Linked DNA regions of Homo sapiens: all the other regions are reported to be linked to region 3. Evidence: microRNA targets listed by miRTarBase, many of them from high-throughput screens and not tested one by one. Region 3 holds a microRNA gene; each other region holds the end of a gene's coding sequence.
The links. Region 3 holds the annotated microRNA hsa-miR-3622a-3p (UCACCUGACCUCCCAUGCCUGU, at 1,703-1,724, opposite strand). A microRNA usually pairs through its seed, bases 2 to 8, with sites in the 3' UTR of a target mRNA and lowers its output. Matches are read on the target gene's strand: a 7mer-m8 pairs with bases 2 to 8, a 7mer-A1 pairs with bases 2 to 7 and ends in A, and an 8mer does both.

Region 1 (4,000 bases), not on the chromosome of region 3:
AATGTGGTAAAGCCTTTCTTTATTCCACTCACTTTCGAATCCATGAAAGAACCCATACTAGAGAGAAACCCTATGAATGCAAACAGTGTGGTCGGGTCTTCATTTACTTCAGTCACCTTCGAAGGCACGAAAGAAGTCACACTGGAGTGAAACCATGTGAGTGTAAGCAGTGTGGCAAAGCTTTCACTTGTTTAAATTCCCTGAAAGTACACAAAAGAATTCATACTGGAGAAAGACCCTTTCAGTGTAGACAATGTGGTAAAGCCTTCAGTTACTCAAAGTCTTTGCACGTGCACGAAAGGACTCATAGTAGACAGAAGCCCTAAGAAAGTAAAGTGTGGTAATGCTGTCAGTTGTATTAGTTCCTTTTGGATGTATGAGAGTACTTACGCTGGAGAGAAATTCAAGGAATGTAAACGGTGTGATTAAGCCTTCAGTTGTCCTAATTCCCTTTGAAGACGTGACTCATGCGGCAATGAAATATTTAACAAATGGGGGAGGAACTTGCACTCTCCTGCGGGATTGCAGATATGTGAATGGACTCCATGGACAGAAAAGCTACGAATGTATGGAGTGTAGGAAAGCCTTCACTTCACGTAATCTTTTAAAGACACCTGAGAATATATACTGGAGAGAAACTATAAAGAAAATTCTATATCCATCCCATCTTTTGTGGGGTTTGTTTTTTGTTTTTGTTTTTGTTGAGATGTAATTTTGCTCTTGTTGCCCAGGCTGGAGTGCAGTGGTGCGATCGCGGCTCACCGCAACCTCCGCCTCCCGGATTCAAGCAATTCTCCTGCCGCAGCCTCCCAAGAAGCTGGGATTACAGGCATGCGCCACCACGCCTGGCTAATTTTGTAATTTTAGTAGAGATGGGGTTTCTCCATGTTGGTCAGGCTGGTCTCAAACTCCTGACCTCAGGTGATCTGCCTGCCTCGGCCTCCCAAAGTGCTGGGATTACAGGTGTGAGCCACAGCACCCAACCTTTTTTTCCCCGCCGCACCCCAAGATGGTGTCTCACTCTGTTGCCCCAGGCTGGAGTGCAGTGGTGTGATCCTGGCTCACTGTAACCTCTGGGTTCAAGCAATTCTTCTGCCTCAGCCTTCCAAGTAGCTGGGATTACAAGTGCCCACCACCATGCCCAGCTAATTTTTATATTTTTAGTAGAGACAGTGTTTCACCATGTTGACCAGGCTGATCTTAAACTCTTGACCTCAAATGATCCACCCACCTTGGCCTCCCAAATTGTTCGTTTTACTTTTTTTTTTTTTTTTTTTTGAGCTGGAGTCTTACTCTGTTGCCTAGGCTGGAGTGAAAGTGGCGCAACCTCTGCCTCCCAGGTCAAAGCAATCCTGCCTCAGGCCCCCTAGTAGCTGGCATTACAGGCACATGCCACCACGCCCAACTAATTTTTATATTTTTAGTAGAGACGGGGTTTCACCATGTTGGCCAGGCTGGTCTTGAACTCCTGACCTCAGGTAATCCACCTGCCTTGGCCTCCCAAAGTGCTGGGATTACAGGCGTGAGCCACCACACCCGGCCCCCAGTTCTTTTTTTTTTTTTTTGAGACGGAGTCCTTGCCCAGGCTGGAGTGCAGTGGCGCGATCTCAGCTCACTGCAAGCTCCGCCTCCTGGGTTCACGCCATTCTCCTGCCTCAGCCTCCCGAGTAGCTGGGACTACAGGCGCCCGCCACCACGCCCGGCTCATTTTTTGTATTTTTAGTGGAGACGGGGTTTCACCGTGTTAGCCAGGATAGTCTTGATCTCCTGACCTCGTGATCCGCCCTCCTCGGCCTCCCAAAGTGCTGGGATTATAGGCGTGAGCCACCGCGCCCGGCCTCCAGTTCATTTTAAAACCATGAAACCACCCACACTGGAGAGCCACCTTCTTAAATGTAAGCAATATGGGAACATCTTCAATGACATCTGCAACCATTGTCGAGATTCTTCGTAGGAAGAATTAAAGGAATGGGGAAGAAGGACTTGGGCCCCAGCAGGCCTTTTGTGGCATCCAGTCAGAAGTTAGGAAACACCCTCTAGGGCAGTGCCTGCCCTCAGCTCTCACACATGACTGGAGAGAAGTGAGAAGACTCCCAGAATCTGCCTTTTAAGTTTCCATCAGTGTCCTCGGGTCAGACTGTGGGAATGCTGTACTTCTAAGACAAAGGTTCGCATCTTACAGTTTTTCCCCAAGTGGGATCTGCCTATGCACATCCTAATTCACAGACATTGTCAGCATTGCATTATTCCAGGGCTGTTTTGAGGTCATCTCCAGCTCCATTTCCCATCTCAAACCTACACTTTGGACACTTGTTTAAACATTCACATCTGAATTTCTCTGTGGCAACCGCAGGTGGCTCTGAGGTGAGAGACTGAAGAAGCAGAGCCTGTATCATGGGACACACACCCCTTGACCACACAGCATCCACTCTCCTGCGGTTACCAGCCCTGCACCAACCACCACAGTCAGAATAATCTCAAAACTGCTAGTGGAGTCACAGACACACTCTGCCATGTCTTAGCTGTAGGACACTCAGAATTCTTACCTCCCCTAACTTGCTTTCCCTGTTTTCTGGCACATTCTACCCTGAGATATTCAGCGGCATATGCACTGATGATGCTCCGGCCTTCTCACGTCAGTGCATGTCACATGCATCCTGCTCCAGGACTGGTTTCCTAGCCTCCCGCTAAGACTAGCACTTAGCTCTTCTTGGAAAAGGACCCACCCTGCAGCGCTCCAGCTCTGTTGTGTATGGGAGGTGCTGGTGTCAGGGTTCACAAGCCATGGAACTACCTTGCTTCACATCACAAGGCAAGGTGAACTCAACTCCCAATAAACTGCTTGCTGGAGCCTCCGAATTCTCCGTTTTCTGAATTGCATAGGCACGATAGGGGTCGGGTCTGTCCTTTGTTGGAGTCAGTCCCCCCTTTTCTTAGCAAGTCAGTGTGTTTTAGAAGGGAGGTGGCAGCATTGAGGGAAACCAGGTCACCATCCACCCTCGTAACAACAGTCTCCCTGGGTGGGTCCCAGAAGTGATCTTTGTGTCGCTCGGGTCGGAACTCTTTAGGCCTCTGGCCTCCACCCTCCCCCAACAGCAGGGATGGGTCAGGTGGCAGCATCCAAAACCACGGTGAAGATACTAGGGTCCAGAGGCCGACTGGAGCAAGGTTTGCTGGCAGATGAGGCCTCAGTGGAAGTGACGGCTACTGTGGAGATGCAGTGGAGGACCTGGTGGCTGAGCCAGGAGATGCACACCTTCGCTTCTCTCACCAGGAACATTCGCTTCTCTCACCAGGAACATTTATGGTAGTATGAGGGGTTGGAACATTATTACTCAACCCATTTCAGGTCCTTTCACATTCTTGAGCTGCCATGTTGTGCTTTTGTAGAGAGATGATTATTGTACTGTGGGAGGTCAGGAAGTTCGAGATTCCTTCACTGTCAGAATGGGCTCAAGGAGCCATCTTTTGTGATAGGTATTGGGGAACTAAGGGGTATCTCTGCTACAGGAATGGGAGTGAGAACATTCACTTTTTGAAGGACAAGTATATGTGGGTCTATGATGATGTTTTTGTAAAACCCTTTTGTGTATGTGTCTGTGTGAGTCCTAATATTCAGTAAGTATTTTCCTCTGTGTAACTCCCTCTAATAGGTGTAGTCAACAAAGCTGTGCTAATATCTCTGTCCCCTTGATCCTGGCATTCTGGAAGACACGAAAGCAAGCAAGGATATATAAGGCACTGTGGTGGTTATTCCCGAGGAGCCAGAGAAACCTGGAGAAGAGATCAGAACACCTGGGGTCCTTCTATTTGGGAGAATCTTTTAGTATCTGGGCTGTTACACCTGTGGGTTTGTGAATTTGTGTCTGTCCACCTGTATGTACAGTGATAACGTGTGTGATTTTTGTATATTTGTCTAGAGGGCTGTGTGTATATATATTTATATATATTTTTAAATATGGAATGCTTTTAGGTTTTTTTTTTTTTTTTTTTTTTTGAG
Region 2 (4,000 bases), not on the chromosome of region 3:
AAGGTGCTATTGACCACTACGTGACACCTGTGAAGGCTGGCCGCCTTGTTGTAGAGATGGGTGGGCGTTGTGAATTTGAAGAAGTGCAAGGTTTCCTTGACCAGGTTGCCCACAAGTTGCCCTTCGCAGCAAAGGCTGTGAGCCGCGGGACTCTAGAGAAGATGCGAAAAGATCAAGAGGAAAGAGAACGTAACAACCAGAACCCCTGGACATTTGAGCGAATAGCCACTGCCAACATGCTGGGCATACGGAAAGTACTGAGCCCATATGACTTGACCCACAAGGGGAAATACTGGGGCAAGTTCTACATGCCCAAACGTGTGTAGTGAGTGTAGGAGATAACTGTATATAGGCTACTGAAAGAAGGATTCTGCATTTCTATTCCCCTCAGCCTACCCACTGAAGTCTTTGGGTAGCTCTTAAGCCATAACTAAGGAGCAGCATTTGAGTAGATTTCTGAAAAACAATGTTATTTGTTGATTTAAAAAGAAAACTGTATTTTTATTAAATAAAATTTAAACATCACTTCAGGATATAACTTCTCATTGGTCATTCTTAATCCCTTAAAAGATTAAGAAATAGGCCTCAATGACTAAAGAGTTCTTGGTCCTCCTGGGGTGTAAGATGAACATGAAGGCTGAAACAAATGTTTGCATTCCCCCATCTATGATGCGAGTCTCACTTAAATGTTTATACTGCCTTTTATACGTACACACTTCAGGAGCCAGTTTCTGTGATATTTTACTAGGTTAAAAACACATTTTTAGAGTAAGAAAAAAACAACAGTACATAGGTCAATTGATTCAATATTTATTGATGCCCAGCTACCCATCTTCTCACAATCTTGGAAGGGGTATGTTGGACAATAGGCAAGGAACATACCCTTTGCCTTTTAGCAAAAGGAACCGATGACAAAAGTTAGAACTGCGTGGCCTTTTCTGGGTCTGAAATTCTCCAAGAGGGAGAGTGTTTGGCTCTATGTTTGTGCCCCTGCAGAATCTAGTACAGTGCTATGTGCCATGCACCACTTAAATTCTTACTGCTAGTGAATGAGGGCCCCCTAGGACTCAGATCCTCATAGCTCCAGCTCCGTTTGCCCAGATTAATGTTTTCCAGACCCAACCAGCTGCAGTCTTCTATCCCCTATTAAAACTAAAGGAAGCACAAATTAATAGAAATATCAAACCATTGGCTTTTGAAGGTGGGTAGAAAACAGCACTGACCAAAATATTTTTAATCCCACTTTCTTAAAAAATAAGGTATCAAACAAAGAATAATTTACTTTCAAAAGTACAAACTTAGCAGTTGTGTGCTCCTCACAGTTGTATAGTGTGATTTTTTCATCAATTTTAGTTACATAATCACTAAATAATCTGCACTAGAACTCACATTCACATAGCTGGTTTTAAAGCTGAACACAACTGAACCTTGAATGGAATTGGGGACAGTATTAAGTATTAAGAACAGTTTTTTTTTTTTGTTTTTTTTTTTTTTTTAGATGGAATTTAGCTCTTGTTGCCCAGGCTGGAGTGCAGTGGCGCGATCTCGGCTCACTGCAACTTCCGCCTCTTGCATTCAAGCAATTCTCCTGCCTCAGCCTCCCAAGTAGCTGGGAATACAGGTGCAAGCCACCATGCCTGGCTAATTTTTGTATTTTTTGTAGAGAGGGGGTTTCACTATGTTGGTCAGTCTGGTGATCCACCTGCCTTGGCCTCCCAAAGTGCTGTGATTACAGGCATGAGCCACCGTGCCCGGCCTATAACAGTTTCTTATACATACGTTACTGGCCAGCAGTTTCAGCTAGCAACACAAATCAGGTGAGAGGTGAAGTGAGTGATAACCTCATTTCACCTTTCTCACTTGACACCTTTATCTGTTCTTTGTTATGGTTCACAGAGTGTTCTACTGATGTGTGAGTTCAGTCATGCTATAAACCTATTTTATTTTGTGGGCCTGTATTTCGTTATTGAACCACAGTCCTGGAGCCAGCCATCTTCTCCACAGATTAAGAGGCTGTTGCTAGAACTCCACCATCACCACCCATAGAAAAAGCACTTTAAATTTTCATGTTGTGGTAATGGGGTTTGAAAGGTTGGTAGCATTTTTGCATAAGCAGATCAGCCCATTCCCAAGCGGCTTTACACAGCCTCTGACAGTAACAAACCACGTTCTCATTGGTACCTTAAAGAGTTTAGGAGTCAAACCCAAGGATTTGTCCATGACTGAAATAAGAGCTTAATTATAAGTAATTAAGTCAGCAGATATTTGAGTACCTGTAAGCAGCAGGCGCTGTGCTAAAAAGTGGGGACACAGCAGTGAGCAAGATAGGCATGTGCTTATCCTTAGATAAACTTCACTTTTAAGACTACTACTGGAGCCTGAAAGAGGAAACAGATGTAGGGTGGTCAAAGGTGTGACCTAGAGGAGCCTGAAGAGCAGAAGTGCCCTGACTTGACCAACTCACAGCAGTTCAAGTAAGATCCTGTTGAGTTAGGTGTGCTATGATATCTGCCCCTTCACAGCCATACTGCACATGCAGGCTGTGTCACTTCCTAAAGAGGCGCCCACTCTGCTTGCTTCTCTACCCTGCAGTCCTCCTTTAAACCATCTGCCTAATCAGCTATGTATCTGTACTCCCTGTCCCTGTCCTCCGCCCAATTCTGTATACGTTTATTCTTTGCATAATTCTTAATAAGTAGTTGATTGGTGCCCTGTTTCTTAAGAAGTTTCATAATGGAAAGAGGAGAAGCTGATGAGGAGTCTGCGTGGAGAAGTGATGGTACCACAGAAGTGGAAGGAGGATTAGAAATGCCAGTCGATCAATCTGTGAGGGCTGTGGGAGATAACAGAAAAATGGAGGAAAAAAATCATAGATTATATAGCATGGTGTTCGTGGCTGGGATCACCAAATCCCTCTTACCCGGGGTAAAGGACTACATACAAGGCTGTGTTAACTTTCATTAACCTTGAAAGGGAAGAAATTTAATTTGAATTTACTGTGTGGCCGGCCCTCTTCCAAAAAGTTCAAGATGCACCTAATGCAAGAACTAATTCTTGTTCTTTTTGTCACTTCCAGATACCAAGGCTCAAACTGTTTAGCAGGAATCACTATCCTTCACCTGTACAAAGCATTCTGCCACACCAGGTTATAGGACAGATTGCCACCTTCTGTCTCCCCCCTCCTCCCACAGACTACCTACTAACAGTTCATTCTTCACTCACTTTTCTGTCTCTGAAACATCCCTTTCTTTAGTTTTCTCTAACCATTATTAGCACCTAATCCCACCCAGATTAAGGCACCTAGAGTGCCCCCAAGACACAAAGGTTTCAAGTCAGTGAAAGAAGGTCTGACCCTCCCCACAGATGGCTCACCTTTTTCAGGCAAATATGCTCCCAATGGTGGAAGCTAAGATGATCGCAAGGATAATACAGCAGATCATGATCATGATCTTCTTCTGCTCATCCAGACAAGGAAAGAAAGAATACATGAGAAACATCATCGCAAAAAGTATTCTGCAGGGAGATAAGTGCATGTGGACATGGAAGAGGGTGTGAAGGAAGAGAGCAACAGAAGGAAAAAGGAGATGGATCTGGCTTCTAGGACCCAGAATGCCAACAGAAATGTTATTTTTGGTGAGACATTCAAGTTAGATTAAAAGGATGTTTGGTATGGTCATTCCACCTTCTAGATAACATCGTGACAGATCTCCCCCATTTCCTCCTAAAGCCAGATACTCCCAAGGACTGAACCAAATTCTTTTGGGGGGAACACCTCAAATCTGAAACACAAACATAGTTACACTGCATTCTGTGGGAGTTAAACCATGTTCAAAAATTGCACTTTTGAACCATCTGATCCAGCACATGGCTTAAAAAGGTGTGAACTGCATTCTAAAACCTGAATAAAAATCACCACATGGTGGCACCAGATCATTGTGTTTCTGCATCGAGACAGAGCCAGAACCGTTTCACAATCAATACAAAGTCATTTTTATTTTTA
Region 3 (4,149 bases):
ACCCAGCCACCCCATCCTGTCCCCTCCAGCCTCACCCTGACTTCTCAGCTTTCACTTTTTTCTGCTGATGGGTTGGAAATTGCTACTCTCCTGTTTTCTCTCCACCTGCACTAACAAACCCCAAGTGCTGCCCCCAGCACGAATCCCTGGTTCCCGGGTCCTCTGCCAGGTGCAGGTGCTGCGGCTTCATGTTCAAAGGATTCTGGGCACTGCGCTTTCTCCCTTGATGTGCCCAGCCAGGCTGCGGGGATGGGAGGCTCCTCTCCTGTGCGGCTCAGGCTGTTTTTCTCCCCAGAGCCTTGTGGCCAAGTTTCCGTGGCCCTGTGCTCTGGACCCTGGGCCAGGGCTGTGGTGTGGGCAGCCTTGAGGCCCTGGGTTCCATGCCAGTTCTCGACAGGAAGGCCTTTCATGTGGGTGCCAGCTGGCCTCTGGGCCCAGCTTCGGGCCTGGCAGGGCCTGAGGAGGGAGAGCTGCGAGTGTGAAAAACACTTTCTGTTTGGGAGCTGGTTGGTGGGAAGGAAAGACAAGAGGGAGGGGGACAGGCAGGTCAAAGAGCTTACCCAGGTTTAGAGGAGCGAGGCCAAGGTGCCCCTGTAGAAATGAGGCGATTCGGCCTTTCCTCCCCAAAAAGAGGTCTTGGCAGAGATACAAGGAAGCAAAGTCTGTTGGGTGGGGATGGAAAACACTTTCCCAAGCCTGCCTTCACTCCCTCCCTCCCCCGGGCTCACTGAGCCTAATCAGGTCAAGCACGCAGCTCCCTGCCAGACACTGTGGCATTGTTTAAAGCCGCTGCCTCCCCAGTACCCTCTCCCCACAGAACTGAGTTCTGACAAAGGAGGCCCTGAGGGACAGGGCTGAGAGGACAGAGACCCAAGGTCCAGGGACGCGTCACTCCCCTATGGCTCGCTCTCCTTCCCACTGGTTATTGTTTTTCTACCCTGGACCCCAGGGAGAAAAGGAGCCAGGCCCTGGCAAACCTGAAGGCTGTTTGTGTTGACATAAAGGCACTTTCTGAGCAAACAGCACTGAAAGGTCAGCAGTAACCCCAGGCAGTGCCAGGACTGGGCAGCGGGTTTGGGAGGTGTGGAGAGAAAGGAAACTGTGGGCCACTTGGGGTCGGATGACTTCACCAGAAGAAGAAGAAAAGCCAGCCAGGCTGCAGGGAGGGGGCTTCCTGGAGATGGAGCCCTGGAAGACCTTGGCTACCCCATAAAACTTAAATAGGACTTGAAGTCAGTTGTTTATCTGCTTTCCAGAACACCAATGACATGGGAGAGAGGCTGGCGCCCTAGGCAGGACCCAAGCGAGCCTGGTGTCTGGGGCAGGATCTGCCACTACGCTTGGCTTTCTCACTGTAGGACTCAGTTTGCATGGGAAACCAAAGGAGAATTTCAAGTGTCCTACTCACACATATTCTAGCCTTTCAGGAAACATTTACTGAGCATACATCACCCACCTGATAGGGGGCTAAGCCTGGGAATGCTTTCAGAGATGAGTAGCACAAGGTCTCAGATAAGGTGACCCATTTTCCCCGTTTGCCTGGGCCTCCCAGTTTTAGCACTGAACATCCCTTAGCTCAGGAAGCCCAGGAAACCCTTTGGTTTGGGGCATACTTGGTTGGTTGGTCACCCTAGCATCAGTCATCAAGCAGCTCACGATCTGCAAACAATGGTAGACATACGAGTGATATAATAGAGGGTGCACAGGCATGGGAGGTCAGGTGAGCTCAGCTCCCTGCCTCACCTGAGCTCCCGTGCCTGTGCACCCTCTATTGGCTATGATCACACCACTGCACTCCAGCCTGGGTGACAAAACAAGACCTTGCCACTAAAAAAAAGAGAAAGAAAGAAAAGAAAGAAAGAGAGAAAGAGAAAGAAAGAGAGGAAGGAAGGAAGGAAAGAAAAAGCTACTTTTTGAATGAAAGAATGAAAAAGCATCTCTCAGCTAGGAAATGTCTTGCCATGATGACACCTGTGTTCAATGGGGAGCTACGAGAACATTTTAAAAAAATCTACTGTACTGAGGCATAATTTACATATAATACAATGCATACACTTCAATGTAGACTTTGATGAATTTTAACAAATATATACACTCAGTAACTGTTAAATCAATCAAAATATTTATAGCACCCCAGAAACTTCCCTATTTCTCTTTTGTAGTTAATCCCATCCTAACCATCCCATCCCAGGTAACCACTTACCTGATTTCTGTAACTATAGATTCATTTTAGTTTTTCTAGAACATCATCTCAATGGAATAATACAGTCTGTACTCTTTTGAGTGACTTCCTCTACTCAATGTGCTTTTGAGATTTATCCAAGTTGGTTTGCATATCACTAGTTTTTTTGTTTTTTTTTTACTGGTGAGTATGGATTTATCATAATTTTTCCATGCATTTGCCTATTGATGAACATTTGACTTGTTTCCAGTTTTTTGCTATTCTGGACAATGCTGTTGTGAATAGTATGTACAAATTTTGGTATAGAAAAACATTTTCATTTCTCTTGGGTAAAAACCCAGAAGTGAAATTGCTGGATCATAGGTTAAGTATGTGTTCAGATTTATAGGAAATCACCTAACTTTTCCAAAAGGGTTGTACCACTTCACAGTTTCACCATTAATGCATGAGAGTTCTCGTTGCTCCACATCCTCACAACATTTTGTATTGTTGGTTTTTGAAATTTTAGCCATTCTAGTGGTATCTCAGAGTGGTTTCATTTGCATTTCCCTGATGATTAATGAAGCTGGAACACTTTTTCATGTGCTTACATGGTCATTCATATACTTTTCTTGCAAAATGTCTGTTCATGTCTTTCATCTTTTTTTTTTTTTTTATTTTTGAGGTAGAGTTTTGCTCTGTTGCTTAGGCTGGAGTGCAGTGGTGTGATCTCAGCTCACTGCAACTTCCACCTCCTGGGTTCAAGTGATTTTCCTGCCTCACCCTTCCAAGTAGCTGGGACTACAGGAGCCCACCACCATGCCCAGCTAATTTTTGTATTTTTAGTAGAGACAGGGTTTCACCATGTTGGCCAGGCTGTTCTTGAACTCCTGGCCTCCAGTGATTTGCCCATCTCGGCCTCCCAAAGTGCTGGGACTTTCATCCATTTTTAATTTGAGCTGCATGTCTTTTTCTTATTGAGATGTATGAGTTCTTTATGTATCCTGAAAGCAAGTCCTTTGTCTCATATATGTATTGCAAATATTTTCTCTTATTCTGGGATTTTTTTTCTTTTCATGTTCTTAAAGGGATATTTTAAAGAATAGAGGGTTTTAATTTTGATATAATCCAATTTATCAAAATTTTTCTCTTATGGTTTGTGACTTTCATGACCATATTTCTTAAAGTCACAAAAATTATCTTATGTATTTTTTAAGAAGTTTTATAGATTTAGTTTTTACATTTAGGTTTGTGGTCCATATCAGATGAATTTTTGTGTATTATATGAGGTAATATCAAAGTTTGTTTTTTGCATATAAAAATCATTTGTTGAAAAGACTTTGAAATCATTGGTGTCTTTGGGGAAAATCAATTGATATATATGTGTAAATCTATTTCTGGATCTCAATGTGGTTCAATTGATCTATATGTCTGTCCTTACACCATTATCTCATTGTCTTAATTACTGCTGCTTTAGAGTAAGTCTTTTTTTTTCTTTCTGAAATTTTAAATTTTTATTTTTTGTAGAGTTGGGGTCTCACTATATTGTCTAGGCTGGTCTGGAACTTTTGGGATCAAGTGATCCTCCTGCCTGAGCCTCCCAAAGTGCTGGGATTGCAGGTGTGAGCCTCCATGACAGACCTAGAGAACGTCTGGATATTATGTAGTATAGGCCCTCCAACTGAACTCTTCTTCAAAATTCTGTGGATTTTCTAGATCCTTTGCACTTTTATATACATTTTTAGAATCAGTTTTGTCAGTGTCTTTAAAAACAAGGCTGCCGAGGCCTGGCACAGTGGCTTACGCCTGTAATCCCAACAACTCATGAAGCTGAGGTGGGAGGGTCACTTGAGCCCAGGAGGTCAAGGCTGCAGTGGACTATGATCATGCCACTGCACTCCAGCCTGGGTGACAGAGCAAGACTCTGTCATTTACAAAAAAGAAAGAAAGAAAAATAAGGCTGCTGGGATTTTGATTGGAAGTGTGTA
Region 4 (4,000 bases), not on the chromosome of region 3:
ATGAAACAGCAACTGGAGGAGAACATGAGGGCGGATTCTCAAATCATGACTGTCCCTTTGAGGAAGTGTCAGGACCGGCTGGGCCTGGGTCTCTCACTGATGAATAGTCTCAGGGTCCTTCGGGGGTGCAGGGTGAGACGAGAGGGCGGGGGCGCCCGATGGACTGAGGCAGGTGCCCCCAGCTGACTCTCCATTCTCTTTCGCAGACATTGCTGACAAGAACGCCACAGCCACTGTCAGGGGTGAGTTCTGAGCCCACATCCCTGTGCCCCACTGCCCCCTCCGTGGGTGCACCCACCCTCACTCCCTCCCCGAGGGAGGTGTCACAGGGCCAGGGCCTCTAAGGAGTCCCCAGTTGGGGAGCTCTTGTTGCAAGGAGACCCCAAGAGGCTAGGGAGGGGCCATGGGCATGGACAGGGTGGAATCTCCCCATCCCTTCCCCACCAGCCCCAGTCCTCCAGGGAAGGGTCGCGCTGGCTGGCGCTGACCCTGCCTGCCCTCTGGCCGCAGTGCCCGGCCGGCCCAGGCCACACGGCGGCTCCCTGCTCCTGCAGCTGTGTGTGTGCGTCCTGCTCGTGCTGGCCCTGGGCCTATACTGCGGCCGGGCCAAGCCCGTGGCAACGGCACTGGAGGACCTGCGGGCCCGGCTCCTCGGCCTTGTCCTGCACCTGCGGCACGTGGCCCTCACCTGCTGGCGCGGCCTCCTGCGGCTCTGACGGGCAGGACGGGCAGGACGGGCAGGGCTTCCAGGAGAGCTCAAGCACTCCGGGGGCTCCGAGACAGCCTGAGCCCTGGCCCTGCTGCTTGGTGAATCATGGGGGCCAAAAGGGGCTGCTGCCTGAGGGCTAACTAGGAAAAGGGGGACCCCGTGGCGTGAGATCGGACATGGGGGGCACAGCAGGCGGCCCCGCCACACTAGTCAGCACAGCCCTCCTGTCTCCTGTGTTGGGTCCATGTGAGATTTTATTAGAAAGAGGATTCGACTGCTAACAGTTGAGGCTCCCCAGGCTCACCCAAAGACCCCTCCCTCGTCCCAGCAGGAACTCCTGCTGCTGCTAGGGCCTGGCCCGGCCATCACCGTGTGCACCCTCTTGAGGAGGGGGACACACTGCCCGTGTTCAAGGGGCTGCTCGGAGGAGGCAAACCCAGCCTTTTGCGATTATGGCTTGTGGGGAATCCAGACCTCGAAACCCCACGGGGAGGGAAGGGTCTGGTTGTCAAGGTGGGTCCCTTTGATGTGAGGTGCCATCCTCTGAGCCCAGGTCTGACCCCCCTACCCAGCCCCGTGAGTCTGGAGAGGCCCCAGGGAAGGACCCCTCATCAGGGGCGGCTTCAGGTGTAGAAGCCGAGGGGACAGCAAGGGGCCCAGACACCCCCGACCTTCAGAACAGCCATCTGTGCCCAGCTCTGCAGGCCAGGCACACCCAGCTGAGCCCGGGGCCAGCCAGCACCACCCACCAGCTGGGGCCTGTGGGTCCCGGAGACCGTCTGTGGTTGTGGCTTTGTCGCCGGATTGCAGAGCTGAAGGGAGCCCTGTGGATGACAAACACCAGGGGCCTCTCCAGACCCTACGTGGGGGGAGGGCTGAACAAAGCAGGGAGGCCCACGGTTAGACACCAGGCAGAACTGCCCAGGAGAGACACAGGGACAATCAGACCAGCGTCCTCGAGGTTAGCCTGAGGCGGGTGGGCACGGCCGACCATCCACCCGGTGGTTCCTGTTTGTCCCACCACTTAACTGGGAGACACTGTTTTATTAAAACACACCGTGGCTTCCTTCAGTCTTGGTGTTTTTATAGAAATGAGAGAAACCAGAACCGATTTGCTAAGGAATCGGCCTCAGTGGCCAAAGCGGATGTCCTGGGCGCCTGGAACCTCCCCATCTCCTGCAGGCCTGGGAGTGGATGTGTCCACTCGGGCAGGGGCTGACCAAGCCCCTGGGTCTTGAGGGATGCCCGGCCGGCTCCCTTTGCCCTGCAGTCAGGGTGTGTCCCTGCAACTCCAGGTGCCAGGGAACAGGTGAAGTGGTCTCCAGGGTCACTTCCAGCTTTGGAATCCAGGGAGCCCAGAGTTGCGGGTGGAGGTAACAAAAGGGGCTGTTTCCAGAAGTGGCCCAGAAGGGACCATGGTGGGGGCTCCCCCGGGGACCCTCCAGCATCTCTCCCCAGGCCCAGCCCATCCCACCCCACCCCAGGAAGGAGGATGGGCAGGTTCCTGCCCCATATTCTGGATGCAGAAGCAGCGGCTCCCAGAGGTTGGGTCTCTCAGAGCAGTCACAGGCCCAGGCTCAGCCCTGTGTGCTTGGGACACCCCTCCAGCCCCGGTTCTGACGGGGGACACCGCACAGGCCGATCTCCCCCAGCCGCTGCTGTCTGTCCACTGCAAAGGCAACGCAAGGACGTGCCTGGCTTTGCGGGGTCCCACGCTACGACCTCAGGTGTTTTCGAATAAACATTGCTCAAAGATGGGCACCACACCCCCAAGAGATCCTTCGAAATGGATCCTCCCACCTGGGGAAGCTGCATGGGAAGCAGTGAGACTCGAAGCCACTAGAAAATGTACAGAGAGGAAGGCAGAACCTCGGGAAGGCCAACTTCTAATTCCTAAAAGCTTCGGACACGAAAGGCTCAAAGCCTGAGCAAACTGTGTGTGACCCACAAATTACAGACAGTTAGAACCACGAGCCAGGCCAGCCAACAGCGGAGAGGGCAGACAGAAGCCCCACACGCTCCTCCTCATCCCTGTTGGAGACTCGGGTGCTTTTGTTTTTATTTTGATTTTGAGGAATAGACACATGTAAGCTTAAGGATCTTTACTTTCAGTTTAGCCAGAGTGGAATTAGAACAGGGATATCATTAACAGCCAGCCAGGACAGAAGCGAAGGCGTCTCAGAAGCAACTTGGTGGACCAGCCTCAGGAACCCCGGGTCATGCCTGCACTTCCCACCTTCCTGCCTGGGGAGAGGCCCAATCCCCTGAGGGACCCTGGAGAGCCCACGACCAGGGCCGCCAGCCCCTGCCCAGCACACTGCAGGCCCAGCTGCCCCTTCCCAGGGCGATGTGTCTGGGCTCCGGAGACAGCCCAGTCCAGGGTGGGTCTATGTCTGCATGCAGCCGAGGATTTCCATCACCCTGGCCATGGGGCTGTTCCACACCTGCTCCTGGGATCCAGCAGTGCAGCCCCCAAGAACAGACCCAACCGGGGCCAAGCCTCAGGTTCCAGAAGCCACCCCTGCCTCCTGCCCCTCCTTCAGGGCCCTAGATGGCTGTGGCCTGGATCAGGGCTGGGCAGAGGGTGAGGCAGGAGCCACCCCACCTTCTGCTGGGGACACAGACAAGGAGCTCTCCGGACTGGAAAGAGTCCCCATGTCCAGTGGGTCAGGGCTGGAAGGGGAGACAGGGGACCCCATCAGCTTAGGGGGCCTCGGATTCTGTCCAAACCCCTTCCCTCGAGGACCTGGCTGCCAGCTGGAAACTCAGCTGGTCCCCAAGGCCAGAGCCCCCTTGAGCTTCCAGAGCCTCGATCCCCCTGGACTTGACACCCCCGATGGGCACCTGCCAGCCTCACTCCCGGGACCCAGGATGATGCCCCCACCAGGACCCTCCATGTGGACCCAGGCACGTGGCCTCCAGGAGGCTGGTGCCCAGCCACCCAGAGACACAAGCCAGCTGCTGATGGTGGACAGGGTGGGTCATGAACTCAGGGAGCCAGGGGCTCGCCTCTCCCCGGGAAGGTGGGCGCAGCAGCAGGGAGCACTTGGCAGCACTCGAGCCAAGAAACGGACAGCCCCTCATCGAGCCCCGGGTGGGGAGGCCCCCCGCCTCCGCCCCCGCCCCAGAACGAGTCCTCTGGAGGTGGACCCTGGGCTTTCCTGAGGGGCAGGGTCCACAGCCAAGCAGCCCCCTACGCCGGGGTCCCAGGTTCACATCCCAGCTCCTCCACTTGCTTCTGCGGGGCCTCAGCACACAGACTCTGCAGAATGGGAAGGCAGCTCCCTCCTC

Region 1: miRTarBase lists ZNF490 as a target of hsa-miR-3622a-3p. Seed matches in the 3' UTR shown: 8mer at 918-925 and 7mer-m8 at 3,107-3,113.
Region 2: miRTarBase lists MRPL16 as a target of hsa-miR-3622a-3p. The part of its 3' UTR that is shown has no 7-base or 8-base seed match.
Region 4: the mRNA of C14orf180 is a reported target of hsa-miR-3622a-3p. Seed matches in the 3' UTR shown: 7mer-m8 at 1,333-1,339, 7mer-A1 at 2,016-2,022 and 7mer-m8 at 2,433-2,439.

Annotation. Positions count from the first base shown.
Region 1 is chr19:12,576,811-12,580,810 of GRCh38, reverse strand. ZNF490 (zinc finger protein 490) reads left to right here. Exons shown (of 5, transcript NM_020714.3): 5 at 1-4,000. The coding sequence ends at 326. Among named protein-coding and RNA genes, the nearest start is that of LINC02926, 27 kb to the right of the region's middle. RefSeq lists an enhancer at 1-887.
Region 2 is chr11:59,802,673-59,806,672 of GRCh38, reverse strand. MRPL16 (mitochondrial ribosomal protein L16) reads left to right here. Exons shown (of 4, transcript NM_017840.4): 4 at 1-533. The coding sequence ends at 326. It overlaps STX3 (syntaxin 3), which reads right to left. Exons shown (of 11, transcript NM_004177.5): 11 at 795-4,000. Among named protein-coding and RNA genes, the nearest start is that of MRPL16, 6.1 kb to the left of the region's middle. RefSeq lists an enhancer at 3,815-3,864.
Region 3 is chr8:27,699,301-27,703,449 of GRCh38, reverse strand. MIR3622A (microRNA 3622a) reads right to left here and starts at 1,773; the gene lies at 1,691-1,773. It overlaps MIR3622B (microRNA 3622b), which reads left to right and starts at 1,683; the gene lies at 1,683-1,777. It overlaps LOC124901920 (a long non-coding RNA gene), which reads right to left and starts at 2,480. Exons shown (of 2, transcript XR_007060869.1): 1 at 1-2,480. It also overlaps a transcript of SCARA3 not described here. RefSeq lists a silencer at 171-316.
Region 4 is chr14:104,588,068-104,592,067 of GRCh38, forward strand. C14orf180 (chromosome 14 open reading frame 180) reads left to right here. Exons shown (of 5, transcript NM_001008404.3): 4 at 207-242; 5 at 511-2,448. The coding sequence ends at 716. TMEM179 (transmembrane protein 179) reads right to left here. Exons shown (of 4, transcript NM_001286389.2): 4 at 2,797-4,000. Among named protein-coding and RNA genes, the nearest start is that of C14orf180, 10 kb to the left of the region's middle. RefSeq lists an enhancer at 1-266.